Homo sapiens: one gene and its partners. The protein of the gene in region 6 interacts with the protein of the main gene of each other region in a pairwise test. Each region holds a gene or a part of one and is shown on either strand. Other genes may lie near its edges. The genes, in order: SORBS1, ABLIM1, CCDC78, REPS1, SPIN1, CASS4 and TSPOAP1.

The links.
Region 1: the proteins of CASS4 (region 6) and SORBS1 interact in a two-hybrid assay, tested with the Homo sapiens proteins (one large-scale study listed by IntAct).
Region 2: the proteins of CASS4 (region 6) and ABLIM1 interact in a two-hybrid assay, tested with the Homo sapiens proteins (one large-scale study listed by IntAct).
Region 3: the proteins of CASS4 (region 6) and CCDC78 interact in a two-hybrid assay, tested with the Homo sapiens proteins (one large-scale study listed by IntAct).
Region 4: the proteins of CASS4 (region 6) and REPS1 interact in a two-hybrid assay, tested with the Homo sapiens proteins (one large-scale study listed by IntAct).
Region 5: the proteins of CASS4 (region 6) and SPIN1 interact in a two-hybrid assay, tested with the Homo sapiens proteins (one large-scale study listed by IntAct).
Region 7: the proteins of CASS4 (region 6) and TSPOAP1 interact in a two-hybrid assay, tested with the Homo sapiens proteins (one large-scale study listed by IntAct).

Annotation. Positions count from the first base shown.
Region 1 is NC_000010.11:95,411,372-95,414,871, forward strand, and holds part of SORBS1 (sorbin and SH3 domain-containing protein 1), read right to left. Parts: intron 3,492-3,500; coding exon 3,123-3,491; intron 1-3,122. UniProt on the Homo sapiens protein: Plays a role in tyrosine phosphorylation of CBL by linking CBL to the insulin receptor. Required for insulin-stimulated glucose transport. Involved in formation of actin stress fibers and focal adhesions.
Region 2 is NC_000010.11:114,441,776-114,445,275, forward strand, and holds part of ABLIM1 (actin-binding LIM protein 1), read right to left. Parts: intron 2,360-3,500; coding exon 2,254-2,359; intron 12-2,253; coding exon 1-11. UniProt on the Homo sapiens protein: May act as scaffold protein. May play a role in the development of the retina. Has been suggested to play a role in axon guidance.
Region 3 is NC_000016.10:723,644-727,734, forward strand, and holds the start of CCDC78 (coiled-coil domain-containing protein 78), read right to left. Parts: upstream 2,801-4,091; 5' UTR 2,725-2,800; coding exon 2,665-2,724; coding exon of another isoform or gene 2,443-2,664; coding exon 2,323-2,442; exon of another isoform or gene 2,238-2,322; coding exon 2,151-2,237; coding exon of another isoform or gene 1,938-2,150; coding exon 1,770-1,937; intron 1,651-1,769; coding exon 1,594-1,650; coding exon of another isoform or gene 1,503-1,593; coding exon 1,435-1,502; coding exon of another isoform or gene 1,347-1,434; coding exon 1,268-1,346; coding exon of another isoform or gene 1,264-1,267; exon of another isoform or gene 1,164-1,263; coding exon 1,038-1,163; exon of another isoform or gene 867-1,037; coding exon 679-866; intron 563-678; coding exon 463-562; intron 294-462; coding exon 214-293; intron 1-213. Other genes in the region: HAGHL (hydroxyacylglutathione hydrolase-like protein), read left to right, coding at 3,867-3,971. UniProt on the Homo sapiens protein: Component of the deuterosome, a structure that promotes de novo centriole amplification in multiciliated cells that can generate more than 100 centrioles.
Region 4 is NC_000006.12:138,905,624-138,908,253, forward strand, and holds part of REPS1 (ralBP1-associated Eps domain-containing protein 1), read right to left. Parts: intron 1,978-2,630; coding exon 1,872-1,977; intron 1-1,871. UniProt on the Homo sapiens protein: May coordinate the cellular actions of activated EGF receptors and Ral-GTPases.
Region 5 is NC_000009.12:88,468,444-88,471,943, reverse strand, and holds part of SPIN1 (spindlin-1), read right to left. Parts: coding exon 3,339-3,500; intron 1-3,338. UniProt on the Homo sapiens protein: Chromatin reader that specifically recognizes and binds histone H3 both trimethylated at 'Lys-4' and 'Lys-9' (H3K4me3K9me3) and is involved in piRNA-mediated retrotransposon silencing during spermatogenesis.
Region 6 is NC_000020.11:56,411,092-56,415,059, forward strand, and holds the start of CASS4 (cas scaffolding protein family member 4), read left to right. Parts: upstream 1-1,168; 5' UTR 1,169-1,367; coding exon 1,368-1,403; intron 1,404-3,968. UniProt on the Homo sapiens protein: Docking protein that plays a role in tyrosine kinase-based signaling related to cell adhesion and cell spreading. Regulates PTK2/FAK1 activity, focal adhesion integrity, and cell spreading.
Region 7 is NC_000017.11:58,308,296-58,311,795, forward strand, and holds part of TSPOAP1 (peripheral-type benzodiazepine receptor-associated protein 1), read right to left. Parts: intron 3,428-3,500; coding exon 3,276-3,427; intron 2,919-3,275; coding exon 2,541-2,918; intron 2,457-2,540; coding exon 2,217-2,456; intron 1,864-2,216; coding exon 1,672-1,863; intron 1,086-1,671; coding exon 246-1,085; intron 1-245. UniProt on the Homo sapiens protein: Required for synaptic transmission regulation. It probably controls the recruitement of voltage-gated calcium channels to the presynaptic membrane, and modulates neurotransmitter release.

The DNA of each region.
Region 1 (3,500 bases), on a different chromosome or scaffold from region 6:
AAGTGACAAAGATCCCTAAGACTTGTGAGAATCCTGACTTTAAAAACCTGAGGTCTCTGCCAGAAATACCAATAAAATTATTAATACTAACATTATAATCTGCATATTGGGGATAATGCCAGTCTTTTAAAACAAAATAAGACCCCAAAAGGTACTAAGAATATTTAGACAGTTTCCTTCATGATATCTATACATTTCTATTTTTGAGTTTATAAACCATAAATTGAGGATGCTCTTCTTAAAAGGCTTTAAGAACAAGATTTTAAATAGTTACTTTTGAGGCAATAATTATCTTGAAGCAATAATCAAAGATCAACTCCTGTGAACGTACCCACAAGATGAGGGCCACCCCCTCACTCACACCTAGCCCAATGCCCTGCAGATAGCAGGTGCTAGTAAATGTCACGTGACTGACAGGTGGGATCTTTCAGCAATGTTGTGTCTGAGCAAATGTTTGTAGCAAGAAAACAAATGCTTATCAAAAGAGGATATGGGCATCAGCACCCAGGACAGCTCCCAACACACAGTAGGAACTTCACAACACTGCCTAGGTCAGTCTATCTCTTCTGAAAGTCCACTAAATAGCCGCCGCTATTTAGTTATGAGGGGCAGCTCAATGTCATGAATAAAACCTTTTCTCAAGACTTGAGAAGCACAGTATGATTTTATACAAAAGTGCCTCACCTTGATTCCTCCATTTAGAAAGTGAAAAATAACTACACTTTTCCTAATTTATCTCCAAAGTGATATAATTATGATAAATGACATATCATTAAAAACTGCCTGAATGCATCCAAGAAACACAAAATATCAGGCATACAGCTCTTTAAAGTATAAATGCCTAATGTGATGTTTGGGTGGATCATATGAGCATTAAGCACTTTACAGATTTTATTTTGTGTCTTATTTCTGGAACATCACAAAAACAGCTATTGATTAAAATAACTCAAATCAATTAACATGACTTTTATTCTTCCTTCTTTCTCTCAACTAGCTACAGATGGAGCAGGCATCAGCTCACAGCTCAGACACCATCCACAGAGGCTCCTCCTCTTGACAGAGGAGGAAGAGGAATCCAAGTAGTTTCCTTTTTCACCTCTGTTACCCAGGGCCAAACCCGAAGCTATCAGGCCAAACTGAGGTCCTTCTGGGAGGTCTACACCAGGCTGATTAGTCAGGTTTGAGAAACTGAGGACCCTGTCCCAACGAATCTGTCCTGGTACACCTAAAACCAACTCGATATGAAAACCTAGGTCTACACAAATAAATTATAGAATACACAATCAAACTACTCACAATGGTCTATGAGGACACTAAACATAAGACACCTTACCTGCTACTCCAGGCAAACATAATCTGTGTCAAAGGGAAGATGCTTGAACTCCCCAAAACAAGAGTGGCTTCTAAATTCTAAGTTCAGCTGAAGGTAGACGGGAATAGACCAGGGAAACATCTAGCATTTTTCTTCAATGGGACTGAGCTGCGAAATTCAAAGCTAGAAGGATATCCAAGGCCGTGGGTCACATTGGGCCTGGTGCTGACCTAACTACACTGCACAGCACTAGAGATTTCAGAACAGGCCCCAGCTCAGGATGTAACGGTTCCCAGCTTTGATGTGTTTGATGCCTCATTATAATTTATCTAATAAGCCAAATGAAAAGTTTCCTTCCTGATTTCTGCATGACTGGCTTCAGCTTAACAAGCCATTTGGAACAGTTTTGCAGGCATACATCTTTACACAAAGGGATGTCAGTAAACGCTTAGTTCCATCAGCCAATTGCATGACCCACTACATGACTGTATCTCAAAATGTAGGGTGTGGACCCCAGCATCTGAAACCCCTGAGCACTTGCTACCAAGTGAGATTCCTAGGCTCTTCTCCAGACCCACTCAGTCAGAAATTCTAGGAGTATAACCTGAGGGTGACGATTTAAACAAGCCTCCCTGACCCTCAGATGATCCCATGTACACAAAGCTTGAGAAGTGACCTCCTACTCCAAAAATCCCTTTGAGAACAAGACCCTGACTCATGGTTGTACCCAGGGTACTTAGCAGAATGCCTAGACCACGGCAGAAACTCAATGATGAATTGTTAACTAACCAGTTACTTGCTTTTGAGTGACCCTGGCCCTCATTTGCCAGGGTAAGTCCTCAGCAACATAGCTAACATTCACTAGGCACCTTCTCTATGTCAAGCTCCATAACAGGAACTTTTACACTCGATCCTACTGAACCCGAAGCCCTGTGAGTAGATTCACGTATTCCCATATTACAACTCGCAATGAAGTTATCAGATTCTCTCAATTCCCAGGGCTCCTAAGGAAAAAGGAGACCCAAGCACTTTGACTCAGCTTTTTCTCTAAGCAGTTGGGCTTTCCCGGCTGTGATGGGAACTCATTCCCCCACCCACAGGATGGGACCTGAGGCAGCAGGGCCCTTTGACTTCCTGTGACCACTGGGGCACTGTTTTGTCACAGAGGCTCCTGGGACCTTCTCCTCAGGGGCCCTAGCAATTGCCTGCCTTTTGAGGTAAAAGTCCTAACATTTGTACAGGGCTTTCAGACCCACTTGCTCACTTAAACCCAACTCTCTCACAAAAAAAAAAAAAAAAAAAAAAAAAAAAAAAAAATCCTAGTCTCTGTCATTTCTGTATACTACAGAGAGTTTATTTACTCACTAGGTCAACAAGAGAATCAGAGAATCGCTTCCTCCCCGAGATCTCCCCGCTCCCTGGTAAGTAGCACCCACCACGCCTGCCGTTGCTTTCCCCCATAATTCTTAGCTTTCCTCAGCTCACCACACGACCCCCGACCTGGCCTGTGAAAAGCATGGCCAGTCAACATAAAGGCCACAGATGTTGTCTTCTGAGGGAGAAAGATGTGCATTCCCAACAGGACAGAGCAGATGAGGCACTGCAGAGATGGGGAACAGCCCCGAGAGACCCAGGGAAGACACACGGGAAGCATGCACGCTAGTGACAGGGGACACGGCTCCAGTCATCACACAGGCACAGCGGCAGCCAGTGCTGTCCTCAGAGCTCAGTGCTTCAGTGAGAAAGGGAATGTGACTGCTGGGAGGAGACATTCAGAAAAGCCGTGAGGAGGGGAGTCCAGCAAGCTTACGGTACTCGAAACAGCTCCCGTGAGGTCAGGCTCCGAGACTCTGCGGAGGTCCTCCGGGGCAGGAGGGACCAGCGGAGGTGGTGGTGAGAAGGATGGTGGCGTCTGGCTAATGGGGGCAAAGGAGCCAGAGGCGCGGGCTGGCTGGCTGTGGTGGGGCCACCTCTGCAGATGAGGGGGAATGAAATCATCTAGAGTCGGGAAGGTCAGAGGTGAGGCGGCAGAGGCAGTCGCTGGGATTGTGGGGACGCAGCCAAGAGGCCCCAGAGGTGTTGGAGGTCTGGCAGTGCCTTCTTGCCCTCTGTCAGTATTAACCAGGTAGAGAGGGACAACTATTACCTCCGGCTGGGCTGCACTGGAGGAAGTGGCATCCTGTGGAAA
Region 2 (3,500 bases), on a different chromosome or scaffold from region 6:
AATATGTGAAGCTGAGTAAGAAAAAAGTAAAAAACCAATTGTTAGGAAATCAGAAGGTCCAATCCTTTAATGAAATTGGCAGTATCTTCTACCTCACAGGATAGAAATACCAAAAAAATTCAAATCATATTGGGCTCAAATGTTCAAAAATATGCCATCATATTTGCAAGGAGTGGGTGGACAGTGATATGACTGAGGAGGGAAGGGAAAGTCAAGTCCACGCGGTTGAGTGGGGGCTGAAGCTGGCTGTGCTTCCTATAGCTCTGGCATGGAGCTAAGTGTTCAGCATGCTTTATTTCTTTGAATCTTCAATATAACCCTAATAACACTATGATTATTAGTTCCATATTACAGAAGGAGAAATAGGGGCTAAGAAAAATATCCTGCCAACAGTTACTAAGCTTCTAAACAGCTGAGCAAGGATGTAAATCAGGGATATCTGAATACATTAGCCCATGCCCCAGTTGATAAGGCAGCAGTAACTGAACTGGAAGCCAACCCTGTATGTTATCAAGATCTACCAGCCATCTACAGCTGGCCTCCTGGGAGGCCTGATACAGGGTATCTGTCAATGATATGGAAGCCTGATAAGCTGCTGGGCTTGAGAGGGAGCAGCCCTGGGCTTGAATTCTGGTTCTGCAACTTAATACCTCTGTATCTCCGGACATGGTGTTTAATCTTTCTGAAGTCCTCATTTCTTCATCTATGCAGGTACAATGTTATACATTCTTATAGAGCAGAATCTCAGAATTCCAAGGAACTCTAAAGATTTGTAAACCACCGAATCCAAGATCAATGCCAGTGAGGCATCTATGAAGGGTAGCGGGAATTCCAGGTAAGGGTGTGGGCTCCGGGGTTATAATATGTGGACTTCTAAATCCTAGTCTTGCTAGTTATTGGCGTATCACGCTGGGTATGTTAACTCAATTTCTATACCAGCCTCCTGATTTCTAAAATAGAGATGAAAATGCTGCAGTTGCTAATAACAACCACATCTACTTCACTGGCATGTTGTGAACATTAAATAAAATGTTTAGCAAAAATGCTTGCATGGAGTGAACATTAAATGCATTTTTTTTTTTTGAGACAGAGTCTCACTCTCACCCAGGCTGGAGTGCAGTGGCGCAATCTTGGCTCAATGTAAGCTCAGCTTTCTGGGTTCACGCCATTCTCCTGCCTCAGCCTCCCGAGTAGCCGGGACTGCAGGAGCCCGCCACCACACCTGGCTGATTTTTGTATTTTTTAGTAGAGACGGGGTTTCACTGTGTTAGCCAGGATGGTCTCGATCTCCTGACCTTGTGATCTGCCCGCCTTGGTCTCCCCACTAAATGCATTTTTAAAGGAACTCTTAGAGGAGAAAATTATGCTCTAGCTCAGAATATGAGAGAAGAAATCTTGTGGTTTAAGAGAGAATTGGCTTATGACAAATAGATACAGGGGAAAATACACTGATAGGCTATTTCAGCCCAGTGTATAAGTCATCTTCTTCAAAAGTATCAAAAACACTGTTCATCCTCAGTTCTTGTATTGAAGATTTTTTTTCTTTTTTTTTTTGAGATGGAGTTTCACTCTTGTCGCCCAGGCTGGAGTGCAATGGTGTGATCTCAGCTCACTGCAACCTCCACCTCCCAGGTTCAAGTGATTCTCCTGCCTCAGCCTCCCGAGTAGCTGGGATTACAGGAGCCCACCACCACGCCTGGCTAATGTCTGTATTTTTAGTATAGATGGGGTTTCGCCACGTTGACCAGGCTGGTCTCAAACTCCTGACCTCAGGTGATCCGCCTGCCTTGGCCTCCCAAAGTGCTGGGATTACAGGCATGAGCCACCGCACCCGGCCTCTATTGAAGATATTAATGTAAAATCATAATGCTTAGAAAATGTCTTATTCATGTTATCTAAAAAAAAAAAAAAAAAAAAAGAAGAAGAAGAAAAGCATCATGTTTTTTAGAGGATTTCCTTTTGCTGCTTCCCTTGGAGATGAGTGTTCTAGAAGACAAACCTAGTATATGGGGATTGGCCTTCATGGATTTTGAGAACCTCCAAGGGTTCACCCATTTCCAGAAGAAAGGAAACACACATTTATGGAAGACCCATGACATGCTTATGAGCTCATTTGACATGGAGTGGGTTTCCCACACTTCCTTTCCCGTGGAATACTCTGTAGGTTCCACCACAAGTGAACAGTCAAGGCAGGTGCCTTACAAGCAGGTGGCTGGCTCTCGAATCAGGGAAGGTTGGGGGTTTGCTGCTTACCTGAGTTGATGGGAGAATCGTAGCGACTGGCTAACAGAGATGACCTTTCCCGGCTCTCTTTCTCCATCTCTTCTTTCAAGATCAACTGTCCCAGGCCTGAGTTAAGCTATTCACAGAAAAAAGGAAAAAAAAAAAAAAAAGAAAGCAAAGCTTGCAATTACTTTCATGGAGCTGCAGTTTCTTTGTAGCAGATCCCACAAGAAGTTTCTCTTGCTGGAGGGCCTGAATGCATGTGGCCCCAGAGCCTGGTAGTTCCTGAAGAGGTAGGTCAAGTTTGGGACCCTAAACCCTCTTAGCCCTTTCAGTTTCAAAGCTCCATTTCCCTAAGTCAGGCTCTGTGTTAGAAGAACGTTTTCCTTCCTCTGCTTTCCCTAAAGAGCCAGGAGACCTCAGAAGGCATGTGTGAGTGTGTGTGGATTTTTGATGTGGGAAGGGAAGACTGGGGCTGGTATCCTTTAAAAAGAAATTGCCTTGATTTGTTTAAAAACAAGAAATAAAGGTAATACATGCTAATTTTACAGATTTTGGAAAATCTAGAAGAAAAGAAGAGTAACCCATAATATGTCACTCAGAAATAACACTATCTTTTGATTTATATCTATCTAGTATTTTTGTATACACACATATAAAACTGAGATCATACTATAAATGCAACTTTGTATCCTTTGACTAATATCACGTGCATTTCCTATATGCTTAGAAAACATCATTTGAAAGGATTCAGCAGCCTCTTGACTGATAACAGACTGTCCTTCTGGGCTGCTGCAGGCCCTTGCTACAGGAAGGAGGGTATGAAGAGGACCCCTTCATGGTGGCCATTCCTTTCATTCCTTTTCTCCTGGCCCACATCCTGGGAAAAGACTTGGAGAAATGTTCAATCCCACAGTCATTCCTTCAGCAGAACTGCATGAGGGAAGGAAGGTGTGGCACTACCTGGGTGGATACCACCTTGCTCTGCCTGGCCCTCCAGCAGCCTTTCAACACATGCACTGCACACATGCCCCCATGTGGTCTCTCTTTCCTTCCCACAACAACCCAAACCTTCCACACCCCTCTGACCTCCAGCACCAATGCCATCTCCTCTAGAGCCCAGCAGGTATTCTGCCATATTCTAGTTACTATTAACAGACACCTGTCTTGCCTTGCCTGCCAGATTTCAAGCCCCTTGAAGACTGGGACCACCTCTTGCCTATCTAGATGGTTTATACATAGTAGTCATTCAAAAAATATAGATCTTATGTAACTAG
Region 3 (4,091 bases), on a different chromosome or scaffold from region 6:
ACCTGCAGCAGCCCCTCTTCTCTTTCCTGTGATTATCAGTGTCGCCGGGACCCACGGAGGGACCCCAGGGTGGGGATGTGCCACTGAGTGCATTGCTGTGACCAGACCCTGTCTGGCGGGGGCTTGGTGGAGCAACTGGGGGCCCCAGGGTGCAGGCGTTGTGCTCTCTGCTCATCCCCCACAGGCCTCCCCCACACCCATGAGGGCACTCACTGTGGCTCTGATGTTCCCCCCTGGGAGGCTCCACCGGGTCTCTTTTTTGGGGATGAGAGCAGTGCCCCAGGCCCGCCGTGCTACAGAGGTTTGTGGTGGGGACGTTTCAGTTGGCTGAACAAGGCAAGCCCCTCAGAGGCCCGGGGCTGAGGTCTCTGTTGAGCCCAGGATGAGGCCTGGGGCCAGTGTGGGGCAGTGGGTGGGTGGGGGGCACCCGGGCCTGGAGCTTCTGGGGGTCTCTAGCCTCACCTGGTCCTCCCGATGGCTGAAGTCAGTGACCAGGGGCACGGGCAATGGTTCCAGGTCCAAGCTGGCTATGTCAAAAATAGCTTGGGGGTTCCCAGGTGCCCTGTCAGGGTAGGCTAGTGTCTGTCTGGGGCCACTCCTGCTGCACACCAAGCCTTTGAGGCACAGAGGCTTAGAGACCCACAGATGCCTGACACCTCCCATCCCAGCGGGGCCCACCTGTAGGCAACCAGTAGCTCTTCATGCCTGCGGCTCAGATCCACCAGCCTCTTGTGGTAGCTGCGGGCAGCCCGGGCCAGCTGCTGCTCACGGCTGCGGTGCGCTGCCCGGATGTCCTCCAGAGTCGCCTCCAGGAATGTCCGGAGGGCCGTGGTGGCTGGCGCTTGGCCTGCACCATCTGCGTGCTCCTGGAGGCGGCGGGCTGGGTCCGCATGGGGCCCACCCCCCATCTTTTCCAACCATCCCCCCACCCCAGCAGGCTGAGCAGTGCCGGGGCCCTGGGGTCTCCCTGAAGCTATCCAGCACACCCAGGCCAGGCTTGGGCTCCCTAGGCCTCAGGGTGCTCCTGCAGGGCTCACCACTGCCTGCCAGGCGCAGTGTTGCAGCCGTAGGACGTACTCATCCTTCAGTTTCTTGAGCTGCAGCTGCAGCCGGGCATTTTCAGCCTCTGCCTGACGGAGCTGGCCTTGGCAGCTGCACAGCACCTGGGGTGGAAGCAGCCCTCCACCTGTGCCCTGAGAGTGGACCCCGGCTGAGCTTCTGGGGCCCCCACCCTCCAGGTCTCCAAGCAGTCAGGGCAGAGCCTCACCACAGCCTGTGTGGCCAGTCGCTGCCCGGCTGCCCTGGCCTCCTCTCGGGCTCCCTGCAGCTGCCGGCCCAGGGTTGCCCTGAAGACACGGGGGTGAGGCTCAGCAGGCCCACGATCAGGGGTTCTCTCTGCTCCAGGATGGGGCCCCAGGTGAGATGGCCACTCACACACGCGTCACCAGTGCCTGCTGCCGGGCCTCCTGATGCTCCAGCGCCCACTTCACTTCCCCCTGCAGCTGTGGGGCACACAGGGCTGGCTGGATGAGACCCTAGGCTTGGGGTCTCTGGTGCTGCCCTCTCCCCTGAGCTAGGTGGCTGCACACTCACGCCGCTCCCCAGCCTGTGCTGCTCATTCTCGGGGTTCATGGTGTTCTTGGGCTGCACCTGAATGGAAGGGAGGGCAGGGAAAGCTAAGGGGTGGGTGAGCCCCAGTTTCACTGAGGCCCCTGCTGAGGCTTCCCTCTGGCCTTTCCCAGCCAGGCTCTCCATATGCTCATGGTAACCTGGAATCTGTGGTCATCAGAGTGTCCAGGCACCTGGGCTTTGTGTCTGAGCTCTTGGGCTGCTGCCCGGGGATGCCTGGGGTCAGACTCCACTGGGACTGCACAGCCCTGGCTGGTGCCATCTCCTCGCAGCTCCAGCTCCAGTACCCGGCTCTCCAGCCGAAGGATCTGTGGGACAACTGGCATGAGCAGGTGCACCTGCCCGCGGGCCACCTGGGGTAGGTGAACATTCACCCGGTGCACGCTCAGGGGCGCGCAGCACTCAGAGGCAGGCTGAGACCCACAGATGCCATGTGCGTGTGCATGCCCATGCAGGGCACGTGTCCTGGGCCTGCACCCCCCGTCCCCCATGCACTGAGGCTGGTTCACACGGCTGCTCACCTCACTCTTCAGCTGGAAGATTTCAGCCTCATGCTGCTCATGTAGGTGGTGGGTTGTGATCTGAATGTCGACCAGCTCCTTGGAGATCTGTGGGTGGCCAGGTGAGAGGTGGCGTCTGTGGGCCCTGCTGGCACCCTCCCTCCTCACGAGCACGCTGGGGCCCCACACCCACCTGCAGCTGCTGCTCCTTATTGAGCGCTAGATCTGGTGGGACCTCTGCTTCCAAGCTGGTGGCCCACACTGCGGTGCCCCCAGGAGCTCCTGGCAGCCAGTCCTTGGCTCGTAGCACAACCTGGGGAGGTACCGCCACCCATTCCCCAGGTGGGTCCCAGGCTGGGCTGTGGCCCCACTCCCATGCAGTCACCAGTCCCGCCTCCCTGCCTGGCTGAGCTGTAAAAGTCCCTCTCCTGGCTGAAATTAGGCCCAGGGTGCAGGAACCTGCACCCTCCTGGCCTTTGGGGGAACGGGCAGACTTCAACCCCATGGCAGGAGCGGCAAGTCCCAGAGGACTCACATTCTCCACCCGCCGAGAGGGAGGTCCAGGCCTGGGGCCTGTGGTGGCTGCGTGCTCCATAGGCTAGGGAACCCTGGCCAGCTCCGAGCCCGGTGCTGCCTCCACGCCCGGCTTCCCCATGGCTGCTGCTGCCACTGGCACTGCTAAGTGCGTTGCCAAGGCCTCTGTTGGTCCCAGGTGACTCCCAGGGCACCGCCCACAGGGGCCGGCCAGACCGGTGGTTGCTGAGGAGGGAGGATAGCTCTTCCTCTCTCCATGCCTCCGTTTCCCCATCTGGGGAATGCGGCCCAGCGCCCCCTGCACATACCCTGTGCAGATGGAACCAGGTGCGTGAAAGCGCCCAGCCTGGGCGCAGCGGACGAGCACGCGGAACGGAGCGGCAGCCCGCCCGCAGGATGCCCTGAGCTACACTCGCTGGACACCTTCTGTGTACCTAGCAGTGCTGGCTGAGCCCCGGGACGGGGGAAGTATATCTCTGCACCTCTGGCCTGAGAAGAGGGGCGCAGACGTCCCCATCAGGGGCCGGAGAACTCGGAAACGACTGGCTCAGCCGGGGCGTCGGGAGGGCTTCCTGGAGGAGGTGCCAGCGCCGGGCGCGGCGGGGTCGGAGCGTGCGCGTGGCGCCCCACCGGGCACGCGCACCGCCGGCGGGCCTTGTGGTCTCATCGCGCGCAGGATCCGGGCCGGGCGGGGGCGGGGGCGGGGCGCGTCCGCGGAGGGGGGCGGTTGGCGGCTCCCGAGCCCAGCGCCGCGCTCAGTCCGGACCCCGTGACCGGCGGCCGAGGCCCCGCCTCCGTCAGTCTGTCCTTCGGGTCCTCAGCACAGCCGTGCCGGTGAGGCGGGCGGCGGGGGAACGCGGCTGTCCCGGGTCAGGGGTCTTGCGGCGGCAGGGCGGGGGGCCGAGGGGCGGGGCCTGGGAGGAAGGCGTGGCCTTTGGGGACTGGGGCTCGGACTGGGGGCGGAGCCGGGGCTGGTTGGGGACCGGCCGGGTTCCGCTCCTGCTGGAGCCCGGTGCGTGGAATTCCACGCGAGTGCCGGGGAGTTCCTGGGGAGCCGGGCTTCTCTTTTGGCCCCCAGCGTGTTGACCGAGCCCGCTTCGCACAGCCCTTCCTAGGGTGTGGAGAGCGGGCCCCGCCCTGAAGGGGCACCGTGGGCTGGGGGGCCTGTTTTGGAGCAGGCACCGGTGGCCGAGCTCCGTGACCATGAAGGTCAAGGTCATCCCCGTGCTCGAGGACAACTACATGTACCTGGTCATCGAGGAGCTCACGCGCGAGGCGGTGGCCGTGGACGTGGCTGTGCCCAAGAGGGTGAGGGCAGGCCGCGGGCCGCAGGGACCCGGCCGTGTCCCCCGAGAGCCTCCCCGACCCCCCTGGTAGGAGCGAGCCCCCACGTGCTCTGCTCTCCGGAAGTCATTGGCGGCTGGGGTT
Region 4 (2,630 bases), on a different chromosome or scaffold from region 6:
ATAAGATCCTAGTAATTTCAAACATTTTCTTATTACACAAATCAGGGAAATAGAATGTCTAGTTTTTAGAAAAGTCACTGTTTGCAACAATGGGTATTAACACCTGAATTTTGCAATAAACCCGCCCCCTGGTAGATGAATTTGTTAATGTAGCTTCTTTTCCCTAGTGATGACATCTGGCTATATCAACTCCTAGATCTCATTTTGAGCTTTAGTTTCCCAAAGAATAACTTTGCATTCAGAATTTTTAATCAATGTTGATTTTAGGCAGTCTTTTCAGTTAGCCACCATATTCTAACTTACTTACTTTCCTATTTTTCTCTTTCAAATTGACAGTATTGTGTTTTAACCAGAACTACCTCTATTTTGTACCTTACTTCCCATTTTCTGTTCTCAGAAGTAAGGAAAAAAGTAATTTTTCAAAATAGCTTCTATATACTTGTTTCAATGGTCTTCCCTGGTTCAGAAAAACATGCATTAACAAAATTTTCATCTTCATGGTATTATACTACTAAGCTTGTCTTTAAGTTCATTCTTCCTGTACGATGGACTAAATTAATAATCATATAACTACAAATGTCTTCTCCTCTGATCATAGAGTTATACAACAATATCATTCATTCAGTAGATGTTTATCAAATGCCTAAAATATGATCTAGGTTTTGGGGATAGACACAAAGTGGCCATAAGTTTATATCATTCATTCAACAGACATTAAAAAATGCCTAACATACTAGGTTTCGAGGAGAGGGACAAGACGGTCATAAGTTTATCTAGGACAATCCCAGTTTATACCCAGTGTCTTGGCCTAAATGATAGTAATACCACCCTCTTTTTTTCCTCTCAAAAGTGTCTCGATTTGGATGGTATATTACGTGGTCTTCCTAAACAGAAATGATTATGATTTACCCTCAATGAGTTCACTGTAGTAGGACAGAGAGACAAATGTGTCACAGATAATAATTCCAGGACAGTGTAATAAATGCTAAATGAGGAGCATGAACAGAATGTTAGGAGAATGAACTAACTGCATTCATTTTTCATTTCCATGGACTCTCATCTCATCTTTGTTCTATTCCAAGTGGGGCCAACAGTGCTCCAGCATCTCCACTGCCTGGAAGCTTAGGAGAAATGCAGAATTCCCAGGTCCCACCTTAGCTCTACAAAAACCAGAATCTTCATTTTAACATGACCCAAGATTACCTGTATATGCCTTAAGGTTTGAGAACCACTGGTTTGTAAGACATGAGTACCTAATAATGTTGGGGAACCATAAGCAATTCTGGGAGTAATTTTTTTTTTTGACTCAATAAAGAAGGAGTAAGTAAGAGTAATTTTTATTTCTAGGGATGCAAAGAAATTATAGTTACTAGAAAACAAACACATTCCTCTCAGGTATTAGGTGACAGTATACACACTGCATAAGCAGCATTTCTATTTAAGGCTTGCCTTTTCTCTTTCCACATGCAAGATGACTGAAATTGCTGCCACTTCTCTTCTTCTTTAGACCTGTTTAAGTCCCTTTAATGGAATCTGAGTTGTCTTTGATAAAAGGACAAACTAGGACCTGGGTGCAGTGGCTCACGCCTGTAATCCCAGCTACTCAGGAGGCTGAAGTGGGAGGATAGCTTGAGCCCAGGTTGCCAGGGTGATAGAGCGAGATCGTGTCTCTTTAAAAAAAAAAAAAAAAGTGTGTGTGTGTGTGTGTGTGTGTGTGGCGGGGAGGGGTTAACTAACCACAGTCAAAGCATCTAGAAAATTAGAGAAGAGAACCATATATGTGATCTTGGAGGTATCTGAGGTCACATTCCTTCTCTTTAGGTTTCTTTACTAAGATAAGGAACATTATAAAGATTCAGAAACTATATTACCTTTAATTGTTGCTGCAATTCGCTATTCAATCTGGCCAAAACGGTGTTGGTTTCCTTATTACGTCTAATTGATGCCTGAATAGCTTTCTTATCTTTCCCAACAGATCTGAGAAGATAAAGAAGGCAAAAAAACCCATAACCTTCATTTCTTATCTTAAATCCTCTCTATTCCTTCCTGATCTATTTCTAAACATGAGAAGCAAAAAGAGCATCTTTTTCCTTACTAGCACAGCTCAACCTCACTTGCTCAGTTGCAGTAGTATATAAGCTTCAGCACTATAGGAAAGGTTAAAAAAAAAAAAAGAAATTATTAAAAAAATTCTTCTTCTGTAGAATCACCTGAATTTAAGTAAAAGAGTCTAAAGTAGGTACTGGCAAACCTTTTCTGTAAAAAACCAGATAGTAAATAATTTCAGGCTTTGTGGGCCAAAGAGTTTCTGTCTCATATTCTAGTTTTTTGTTTTCTTTTCTCTTCTATTTTTTCTTCTCTCTTCTACAAAAAAGAAAAAGTCATTCTTAGCTCATGGGCTATACAAAAACAGGCCATAGGCTGAATTTGGCCCATTAAGACTTAATCTGCTGATTCCTGGTCTAGAACACCATAATTAAAATACCAGTTTTACTATAAACTATCAAGTTTAAAAAATGTACTGCTACGGGGTTTGAAAACAGGGTGTTAAAATGGCATTGAATTCAACTTAATAAAGGGGGAAACATGGGAAGAATACCTACCCGTACATGAGGAGGCTCTGCTCAATT
Region 5 (3,500 bases), on a different chromosome or scaffold from region 6:
GCCTGTAATCCCAGTTCCTTGGGAGGCGGAGGTTGCAATGAGCCGAGATCGTGCCACTATACTCCAGCCTGAGCAACAGAGTGCGACTGTCTCAAAAAAAGGAGGAAAAAAAAAAGCAGGACTCAAACTTCTTGATCTCAAAATTTACCACAAAGCAATGTAATCAAGACAATGCAGCACTGGCACAGCAACAGACATACAAACTAATGCAACAGAATTGAGAGTCCAGAAACACACCCACGTATCTGTGGTCAACTGATTTTCTTTTTTTTTTTTTTTTTTTTTTTTTGAGACAGAGTCTCGCTCTGTTGCCCAGGCTGGAGTGCAATGGTGCGGTCTTGGCTCACTGCAACATCCACTTCCCAGGTTCAAGCGATTCTCCTGCCTCAGCCTCCCGAGTAGCTGGGATTACAGGTGCCTGCCACCACACCTGGCTAATTTTTAGTAGAGACAGGGTTTCCCCGTGCTGCCCAGGCTGGTCTCGAACTCCTGACCTCGTGATCCACCCGCCTTGGCCTCCCAAAGTACTGGGATTACAGGTGTGAGCCACCGCGCAACAAGGATGCCAAAACCATTCAATGGGGGAAAGAATAGTCTTTTCAAAATATGGTGCTTGGACAACTAGATAGGCAGTCACAAGCAAAAAAAAATGAAGTTGGACCCTTAACTTGAACCACAAACAAAAATTAACTTGAAAATGCATCAAAGATCTCTAAGTAAGAGCTATAATTATAAAACTCTTATAAGAAAACGAGGGTAAATCTTTATGACCTCAGATTTGGCAAAAGATTCTTAGGACACAAAAAGCATACTCAGCAAGAGAAAACATAACTCGGACTTCAGAGTTTAAAACTTTTGTGCAAAGATCATCATCAAGAAAGTAAAAACAGCCCATGGAATAGGAGAAAACATTTGCAACATATATCTGATAAAGGTCTTGTATTTAAAAAATTGTCACAATGCAATAATGAAAGACAGATAATTCAATTTAAAAATAGGCAGGGGATATGAATAGACATTTCACCACAGATGATATTAAAAGGGCCAATAGGCCGGGCATGGTGGCTCATGTCTGTAATCCCGGCCCTTTGGGAGGCCAAGGCAGGTGGATCCTTTGAGGTCAGGAGTTCAAGAGGAGCCCGGCCAATATGGTGAAACCCCATCTCCACTAAAAATACAAAAATTAGAAGACATGGTGGCACGCGCCTATAGTCCCAGCTACTGGGGAGGCTGAGGCAGGAGAATGGCTTGAACCCAGTAGGCGGAGGCTGCAGTAAGCTGAGATCACGCCAATGCACTCCAGCCTGGGCGACAGAGCAAGACTCTGTCTCAAAAAAAAAAAGGGGGGGGGCCAATAAGCATATGAAAGATGCTTAACATCATTACTCATCAGGGAAATGCAAATCAAAGCCACAATGAGATACCACTTCACATCCACTAGGATGGCCAGAATCAAAGTAACAGTAACAGTTGGTGAGAATGTGGAGAAATCAGAAGTCTCATACACTGCTGTTGGAAATGTAAAGTGGTATTTCCGTTTTTAAAATTAGCCTGGCAGTTCCCCCAAACGATTAAACATAGAGTTACCATTATGACCCAGCAACTCCACTCCTAGGTATATACCCAAAGGAAATAAAACATGTCCACACAGAAACTTGTACAAAAATGTTTACAGCAGCATTATTCATAATAACCAAGAGGTGGGGAAACAACTCAGATGTGCTTTACTGGATGAATGGCTAATCAAAATGTAGTATATCCATACAATGGAATCGTATTTGGCCATTAAAAGGAATGAAGTACTGATATATGCTACAGCGTGAATGAAATCTCAAAATATGCTAAGGGAAAGAAGCTAGCACAAAGGACCTCACACCATATAGTCCATTCATATGAATGTCCACAACAGGGAAATTTACACAGCAAGTATTACTGGTTGCTTAAGGCCAGGGGGTTCGAAGAATAAAGGACTGACAGCTAACAGATACAAAGTTTTCTTTTGAGGTGATGACAATGTTCTAAAATCGACTGTGGTGAGGACTGTACATATCTGTGCGTATATTAAAAAGTACAGAAATGCACATTTTAAATGGACTAACTATATGGACTAACATGGTCGTAATGGCTCACACCTGTAATCCTAACACTTGTGGGAGGCCAAGGCTGGTGGACTACCTGAGCTCAAGTGTTTGAGACCACCTTGGCCAACATGGTGAAACCCCATCTCTAAAATATAAAACAAAACAAACAAACAAACAAAAATTAACCAGGTGTGGCGGTGGGTGCCTGCAGTCCCAGCCACTTGGGAGGCTGGGGCAGAAGACTCGCTTGAGCGTGGGAGGCGGAGGTTGCAGTGAGCCAAGACCACACCATTACACTCCAGCCCAGCCTGAGCAACAGAGCAAGACTCTGTCCAAAAACAAAAACCACAATAAAGGTTTTCTAGGCCTAATGAAATTAGCCCAGGTCACATCCTCTTCTACCTTACCTGTGTGAACAGACTAGTTGTGGAAATAGCTAAATCACCTGTCTAAACACTGACTCTGTACTCCACTTGCTACTGAAAAGTTAGCAGTCAATCGTTTTCTGAAATTGATGTTCTCTAAATCAGGAGTCCCAGACACCTGGGGCCACGCCGCACAGCAGGAGGTGAGCAGCGGCAAAGAGAGCACTGCCGTCTGAGCTCTGCCTCCTGTCAGATCAGCAGAGGCATCAGATTCTCACAGGAGCACAAACCTTATTGTGAACTACGCATGTGAAGAATCTAAGTTGTGTGTTCCTTATGGGAATCTAATGCCTCCAAAACCACCATATCCACACCCAACCCCCAATCCACAGAAAACTGTCTTCCATGAAACTGGTCCCCGGTGACAAAAAGGCTGAAGATCGCTGCTCTGAAGTTCAAGTATTTACAGATGAAATAATCAATGTCTTGGGATTAGATTCAAAATAATTGCACTGGGGGGACTAACAGATAAAACTAGACAGGCGATGAGATAACTGTTAAAGCTGAGCAGGGTACACGGGGACGTATTTTACTGATCCCTATTCCATCATGTTTTTAAATAAAAGCAAGAAGTAATATGTAGTAGTGTTAATAATTATAAAACAACTTGTATCTTATTACAGAAGCCAAGCAGAACTGACTATCAAATATTTTCTTATCTAACATTTATAACAACTGGATGAAAAATTTCAAAGGCTGTGTTTGTGCATGACTAAAAGAATCATATATCCAAAAATAAAAATGTATCTGCAAAAGAGCCAATCAAATATCTTGTACTGAAGTCCAAATCCCTTCTAATTATCACATATAAAAGTTGCCAATATATACTTACTGGAATCAGGCATAATGCGAAGGTCGCCTTCTTTGTAATCATCTAAGAGTTGGTACATGTACAAGACAGGGTCTTTCTCATAGGTAATGTAAAACCATGTGTTCATGACAGGTGCACGTGCTAAGACCATTCCCCTCCACTCATCTTTAGAACCATCCTCTG
Region 6 (3,968 bases):
GAACTTGCCTCAGAGGTGTGGTAAAAGAAAAGAAAATTTAAAAATAAAAAATTAAAAAATGCTGTCTGACAAGAAGATAGCGGTAAGCTATCCCCCACAGCTGGTTGGGGATAGAACTTGAGCCTGGCTTGGAAGAATGGGCACCATTTTGTCTAAATAAAAATGCAGGCCGGGGCCAGGCGTTGTGGCTCACGCCTGTAATCCCAGCATTTTGAGAGGCTGAGGTGGGTGGATCACTTGAGGTCAGGAGTTTGAGACCAGCCTGGCCAACATGGTGAAGTCCTGTCTCTACTGAAAATACAAAAATTAGCCAGGCGTGGTGGCGGGTGCCTGTAATCCCAGCTGCTCTGGAGGCTGAGGCAGGAGAATCACTTGAACCCGGGAGGTGGAGGTTGCAGTGAGCCGAGATTGCGCCACTGCGCTCCCACCTGAGTGACAGAGAAAGACTCCGTCTCAAAAAAAAAAAAAAATGCAGACTTATTTTGCTCAGTGTCTGCTATGCTGTAGGTCCTCTCTAGAGATTGGATCTGAATTTAGGAAAAGTAAAAAGAGTTGGCAAGTGATGATAAACTGCATGAGCTAGCAGGGGTTTCAAGTACAACACACACGATAAGTTTATTTGATTTAAGAGAGAGAATACAGGTGCGGGGCTCAGCATAGCCCTCAGTGCAGAGCCAGTACCCAGAAGATGTTATTCATTAGGTACCATGAGCAAAGACCAGGAGATGAGCATGGGGTTCCGAGCAGGGTGAATGCACAACTGACAGGGTGGGTAGAGTGGAGACTGTGTCCTTTAAGGCAGCCTGTTTGACTGCTTTTATCCTGGCTGTCATAAGGCAAGTTTTAGGGAGCAGGAAGGAAGAAATGCTGACCGCTATCAGAAATTTGGCCTAGTGGCCTCTCATCAGGGAAATGAGCTTGGTCTGTTCGGTTGGAGTTGTTCCACAGAGTTCAAAGGACAAGAATGCTGTGTGTTCATACACTGAGCTCTTCGAAGTAGGAACTTCGCCCTATAAAGCAGAAGAGTGGTGTTTTTTTCTTCTTCTTCTTCTTTTGTGGTTTCACATAGCAAATGAGTGACAGTCTCTACTTACAGACAAAGTGAGACGTCAGGCATTGAGACGTGAGTGTGGCTTGTATTTCTGGTCCTCCCCTGCTTCACTGCTTTCATTTTACTCTTATCGTGCTTTCCAGAAAGTTTGCCTGCTGGGAGAGTCTTTTTGATCGTTTCCCATGTGTTGTCAGATAGCTCCATAGAATTCAGTTTCTGAGAACCAGCCAGAAGCATGCAGTGACATTGCACAATCTGCCTCTGAAGCTGGAGATACTAGCTGCAGAGCTCAGGGGAGCTGCTCCACATCACCGACATGAAGGGAACAGGCATCATGGACTGTGCGCCCAAGGTGAGTGATGTGGGGCTGTTTGAATGGGCTCTGGCGGGGAGCAAGCTGTGATGATTAAGGGTGTTGACCAGCTTTAGTTGTGACTTTCTAATAAAGGTTGAATACCAGTGACGTGTGAGTTGGAGATGGGAAAGTTTAACATAAGTTTAAGTGTGGGAAATAGATGTGTTGTAAAGCTCCTTACCAGTTTGCATCCAAGATGGGTGAAAATGACTTTGTAGTAGAAATCAGCTTACTTGGTTGACAGCGCCGTCCATCATTTTGCGTCCAGCAAACTCCTGAAGCAAGATGCGAGTCTGCCTCAGCCCCCGCTAATTCCTTCTTTCTCTGGACCCCAAAGACACTCAGTGCCACTCTAACTGTCCTATTTGGTTTCTGTGCTCACCTCCCAACAGCAGAGCCCAGACCCTTGCCTGCAGCCTCCCGTGCTGAGCCCACAGTGGGCACTTACATGTTATTTTCATGTTAACTTGTGCATTATGTGAGCAAAGCTGGAGCTTTCAGACAGACTTCATGCCTGTCATGAATCAAAAAAGATTCACTATTTAGAAAGGTGAAAGAAGCCAGGCACGGTGGTACATACCTGTACTCCAGCTACCGGAGAGGCTGAGGTGAGAAGATTAATTCAGCCCAGAAGTTTGAGTCCAGCCTGGGCAACATAGCGAGACCCCATCTTAAAAAAAAAAAAAAGAAAAGAAAAGTTAAAATGGCTACCATATTAAAAAAAAATTTACCCAGACATAAAGAAAGTGAAGCTCAAGGTTGTGTTTTCATCTTGCTATGCCCTTTTTAAATTTTAAGTAGAACAGGAAAAAAGAAATGAAACAAGCAGTAAATGGGGAGCTTGCTTATAAAAATCAATGCTTATTTTTCATTATAATAAAAGTGACTAGTGTGGCTGTCTGCGGTGGCTCACACCTGTAATCCCAGCACTTTGGGAGGCCAAGGCAGGTGGATCACTTGAGGCCAGGAGTTTGAGACCAGCCTGATCAACATGAAAAAACCCCATATCTACCAAAAATACAACAATTAGCTGAGCGTGGTGGCGCATGCCCGTGATCCCAGCTACTCGGGAGGCTGAGGCACAAGAATCGCTTGAGCCTGGGAGGCAGAGGTTGCAGTGAGCTGAGATTATACCACTGCATTCCGGCCTGGGTGACAGAGCAAGACTCTGTCTCAAAAAAAAAAAAAAAAAAAAAAAAAAAGTCACTAGTGGAATTTGTGACTGAGTAACCCATGACAGTCTCTCTTGTATAGATTATATGTAAATATCTTAGCTACCCTAGAATTTTGTCCCCAACTACTTACTTTGAAAAATTTCAAACCATTGGAAAAATATGGGAAGCGTGGGGGTTATTCAGTAAATCCCTGCATATCCTTCACCTAGATCATTGGTTTCTGGTACTTTGTCATATTTGTGTGCATTTATTTGTGTATATTTAGACACTGGAACACACTTCATTTTTATTGTTGTTGTTAAACTCTTTGAAAATAAATGGCCAATACAATGACGCTCCACCCCTAAACTTCATTATGTGTCTCCTAAGAACAAGGACATTCATCTACAGAACGTAGAAGAATATCTACATATCATCATACCCAAGAACATTTCACATTTATTTAATAATGCCTTTCTACTATTCAGTCTAATTCACGTTGATTTAATAATGCCATTCTACTATTCAGTCCACATTCACATTTTCCAAAATTATCCTTTTTAGCTTTTCTGGCTGTTGTTGTTTGTGTGTGTGTTTGTCTTTCTGATCCAGGTGGTGTTTGTCAATTCTCAGTTCTTAATCTAGAACAATCTACTACCTTTTTCTCTTTCATAACATTGACCTTTTTTCTAAACAGCCTAGATTTTTTATGATTTAGACTTCTTTTTATGTACTGCTTATTCTGCCTAAATAATTTATGTAGCGCTTTACAATTGGGTGGGGTTTTGTTATTTAAAAAAAATATTTTTAGCAATGGGGGTATCACTCTGTTGTCCAAGCTGGACTCAAATTCCTGAACTCAGGTGATTCTTCTGCCTCAGCCTCCCAAGTACAGGATTACAGGTGCACACCACCGAGCCCCACTGCAATTTGTAAATAACATGCATGTTTGCATAGAACATATAATTGATATTCCCAGCATCCCCATGAAATTCTGCTATTAATATTATACAGATAGGCCGGGAGCGGTGGCTCATGCCTGTAATCCCACCACTTTCAGAGGCTGAAGCGTGTGGATCACCTGAGGTCAGGGGATTAGCCTGGCCAAAATGGTGAAACCCCATCTCTAGTAAAAATACAAAAAAATTAGCTGGGCATAGTGGTGCACGTCTGTATTCCCAGCTACTCGGGAGGCTGAGGCAGGAGAATTGCTTTATATATATATATAAATAGTAGCCAACCCTTACCGATTGTCTACATGTGAGGCCCTGTGCTGAGTGCTCTACTTGCATTTTCTCACTATTACATCCTCACAACATCCTCATGAAGCAGAGGTATTATTCCCCTGTCACAGACGAGGAAACGAGGCCTCGCTGACTTGCCCAAGGCCATACAGCTAGTAGGTGGC
Region 7 (3,500 bases), on a different chromosome or scaffold from region 6:
CGACCCTGCCCACAGGCCGCAACAGGCGACTAGTGATAGAATATTGTGCATCCCAGTCCTGATCAGCAGAAGCAGCAAAGCAGTGGAATGTGGGTGGGAGGAGGCAGGTGAGGGAGCCCGGAGGCCCGGCCCCACCTCTGCTGATGGAGGCAGGCAGCGTGGAATGGGAGCTGCTGGTGGGCAGCAAGCAGGGCCACCAGGTGGCAGCAGGCAGGGGCTGCCCAGGGCGGGGAGTGAGCACGGACCCGGGAGAGTGGCTCCTTGGCTCTGCCCGTCGCACTGCGGCCTCTCCGCTCTGGTTCCCCTTTCTCCCAGGCTGGGAGGCGTGGGTAGGGCTTGGGGCCTGAATTGGCCTTCGGAGGCCCCCTGGGCCTTCCTACAGTTGCTGTGCCCCAGGCCTCCCCATCTCCAGGGTAGCAGGAGCTGGTGATGCTGATGCCCCCGCTGCCCGCCTCCTGCTCATCCTCCGAATCATATTCAATGCTGATTTCCAAGCACTTGGGGGAAAGGCAGCTGGCCAGGCCAGGCTCCAGCGCCCGGCCACGGGAGCACCTCCGGGAAGGGCCCAGCCGGCCTCTCCCGCTAGCCTCTAGTCCAGTCCTGGGGCCCTCAATTACGGGGAGGCCACCCCTCTCCCGTGTGGGGCCCAGTCGTCCAGAGGCCTGGGGCCCATTGTTGCTGAGAAGTCGGCTGCAGTGTTCTCGGGGATCTGGAGGCCGCCTGCGGCTTGGGGGCTTCTCAGGGGAGCCCCCTCCTCTCCTCCGGCTGCTTCCACCAACTAATCCAGGCATGTCTTCCAGGCAGTCTCCAGCCCTGGAGGACTCAGGAGACAAGGGACACTGGCCAGGTCTTCGGGGCTGACCACTGTCACAGCCCAGCCCCAGCAATGCAGGTTCAGGCGGGCCAGGGTCTCGGGAAGAACAGCCTGCCCCTGACTTCTCCTCCTCCTCGTCCTCCTCTTCCTCTTCCTCCTCCTCCGGGATGCTAAAGAGCTTCTTGCTACAGAACTGCTGGAGGGGCAGCTCCAGGATCTGCTCCAAGATCTCCTCATCGCTGTCAGTCTCACAAAAGGGGTCGGGCTGGGACTGGTGGAGGTGGGGAGGTGGGAGTAGAACACAGCAGGGAAGAGAGATGCGTGGGGAAGAGGAGAGCGAGCTGCGATCTTTGCCCTCAAACGAAGGCAGGGGTTACGGACAACCCCACAGCCCTCCCACGGCTTCCTCCGAGAGGAGAGAACCAGAGGGACGGTGGCTGGCCCAAATTCACACACATATCCAGTGAGAGCCAAAGGAAGAATTAGGGAACACACTCTAGGAACCATCACCAGCCCCTGTGGGACAGGAGCATTGAGGAGCAGGCCTCCCCATCCCCTCCCCAGAAGCTACCAGCACAAGGATCTTAGGTGGCACCGGCCTCCCCTGGCCAGGGCGCTGTATCTGGTGGGCTGGAGGGAGAGAAGGTACAGAAATGAACTCCTCCCCTTCCCCTTTCTTTCCAGGAGGGCAGGGGCCAATCCTGGGGCACTTCCTATCTTCTGCTTAGGACAGGGCCCAGGCCACAGACCTAGAATGTTTCTGGCACTCAGTGGTGGTCAGAGCACCTGCTGACACACAGTGGGGAGGCCCCGGAGTTTGAGGCCTGGGGCCCAACAGCCCATCCCTACCCCGTTACCTTGGCCCCATTCTCCCTGATGCTGTTGCCAGCAACCTGCTTCTGGAAGGAGCAAGTCCTGGAACCCAGCTCCTCTTCCTCCTCCTCCTCCTCCTCTTCCTCTTCCTCCTGGATGTCTGACAGGTCTGAGTTGCGGCCGTGGTCCACGAGGGAGTTCACCAGATGAACCCCAAGCTCTGCTGTGTCCTCCTTCTGCAAGAAGTGAGGCAAGGCAGGAGAGATAAGGACAGTGAGGGGGCACAGGGGGTTCCAGGCAGGGTCAGCCCCAGCCACAGTAACAAGGGTCCTTTGGCAGAGGGAGAAAGAGCCATGTCCTAAATGGGGGAGGCACACCATGGCTCAGGGGCAGGGTGGGAGAAGGGAGATGGGAGCCACATGGGACAGAGAAATCCTAGAAGAAAAACAGACACATAGCACAGCCAAAGGTGTGAGAGCAGGACCAGAGCAGAGGACAGGCAGAGAGGGCAACTGGATTTGCGCTGGCAAAAGGTAGGGAGACAGGCCTCAATTCTCTGAAGTGACACAGTGTGTCCCCAAACCCCTACCTCAGCCCTGGGCCTCAGCCCAGACCCTGGGTCTCCTCCTTGGCACATCTCGGTATTTGGCGCCTGCTGGGCCCGTGCTCCCTGGGTGGAGCTGGAGGCCGGACAGGCCTCTCCTGCAGTCCACTCGGCCTCCTGCTTGGCCAGTGAGGGAGCTGCGGGGCCAGGGTCCTTCTCACCCAGGGTAGATGTGCTGGCTGTCCTCTCCTCTGAGGTGCCCAGCACTGCTGCCCCAGCCTCCTCCTGGAACAGAGAGCACTGAGGAAGGACCCAAGCCCAGGTCCCTCTGCCAGCCTGCACCTGCTCCCCTCTCCCCAGACAGGGTACCTGGGAGCAAGGTGCTGGAGGGTCCTCGTGGGACCCTTTTGCCATCTCTCTGGAAGGGCTTGCAGGGGGTGCTCCTGGAGGCTCTTGAGTTCCAAGGGGAGCAGGGTGCTGGAGAGGAGAGCTGGGGTCTCCAGGCCCTGGGGAGGCTGAAGCAAGGGGCGCTCTGGCCTCTGGGCTTGGGTGCGGTGAGGGGCAGGAGACTCGGGCTGGCAGGCTGGCCGGAGCCAGGGCGGGAGTGATAGGAGCCGGGATGGAGTCCGCCGACTCCCCGTGGGGCGACATGGTGCGCACGACCACCTCACGACACACCTGCAGCAGCTGCAGCTGGGACAACTCCACCAGTACACTGCCTGCCGTGGGTGAGGCCACCTCCATGATCTGCAGGGTGGAGGGGGCACAGGATGGGAAGCAGAGGCTGAGACAGCCAAGCGTGAGGATGCACTGACAGCAGTGGCAGCTAACTGACAGCAGTGGCAGCTAGCATTACGCCAGGTACTGTGCTAAGCCCTCTGCATGGCCTATCTCATTTCATCCTCCTGGCCATATGGCTTCAGTGATGGAACAGTTCTAAAATCTGTCATGTGCTGCCAAAGCCCATGCTCTTAACCCATCTGCCTCATGGTACCCAAATGCCAGGGGCTGGGCATCTCCGTGCCAAGCCAGAGAGCCTAGACCTCTGAGCATAGCAAGAAGGGACCCACCCCCACTCCCAGGGTACAGTGGGCAGGGCTATACCTTCTGCCCATCAGCGTAGATGGCATAGCCTGTGACCCGGACACCGTTGGATGTGCCAGCAGCATCGATGGTGACTGGGAGCCAACTGATGATCAAGATCCCAGGGGAGGGCCCAGGCTCGATCTGCACATCCAGAGGGGCATCAGGTGGGCCTGGGGGCAGGGGGGCACAAGACCCAGTGATGCAGGACGCTCCCCATCAGAGATACCTGCCCAATTTGCTATT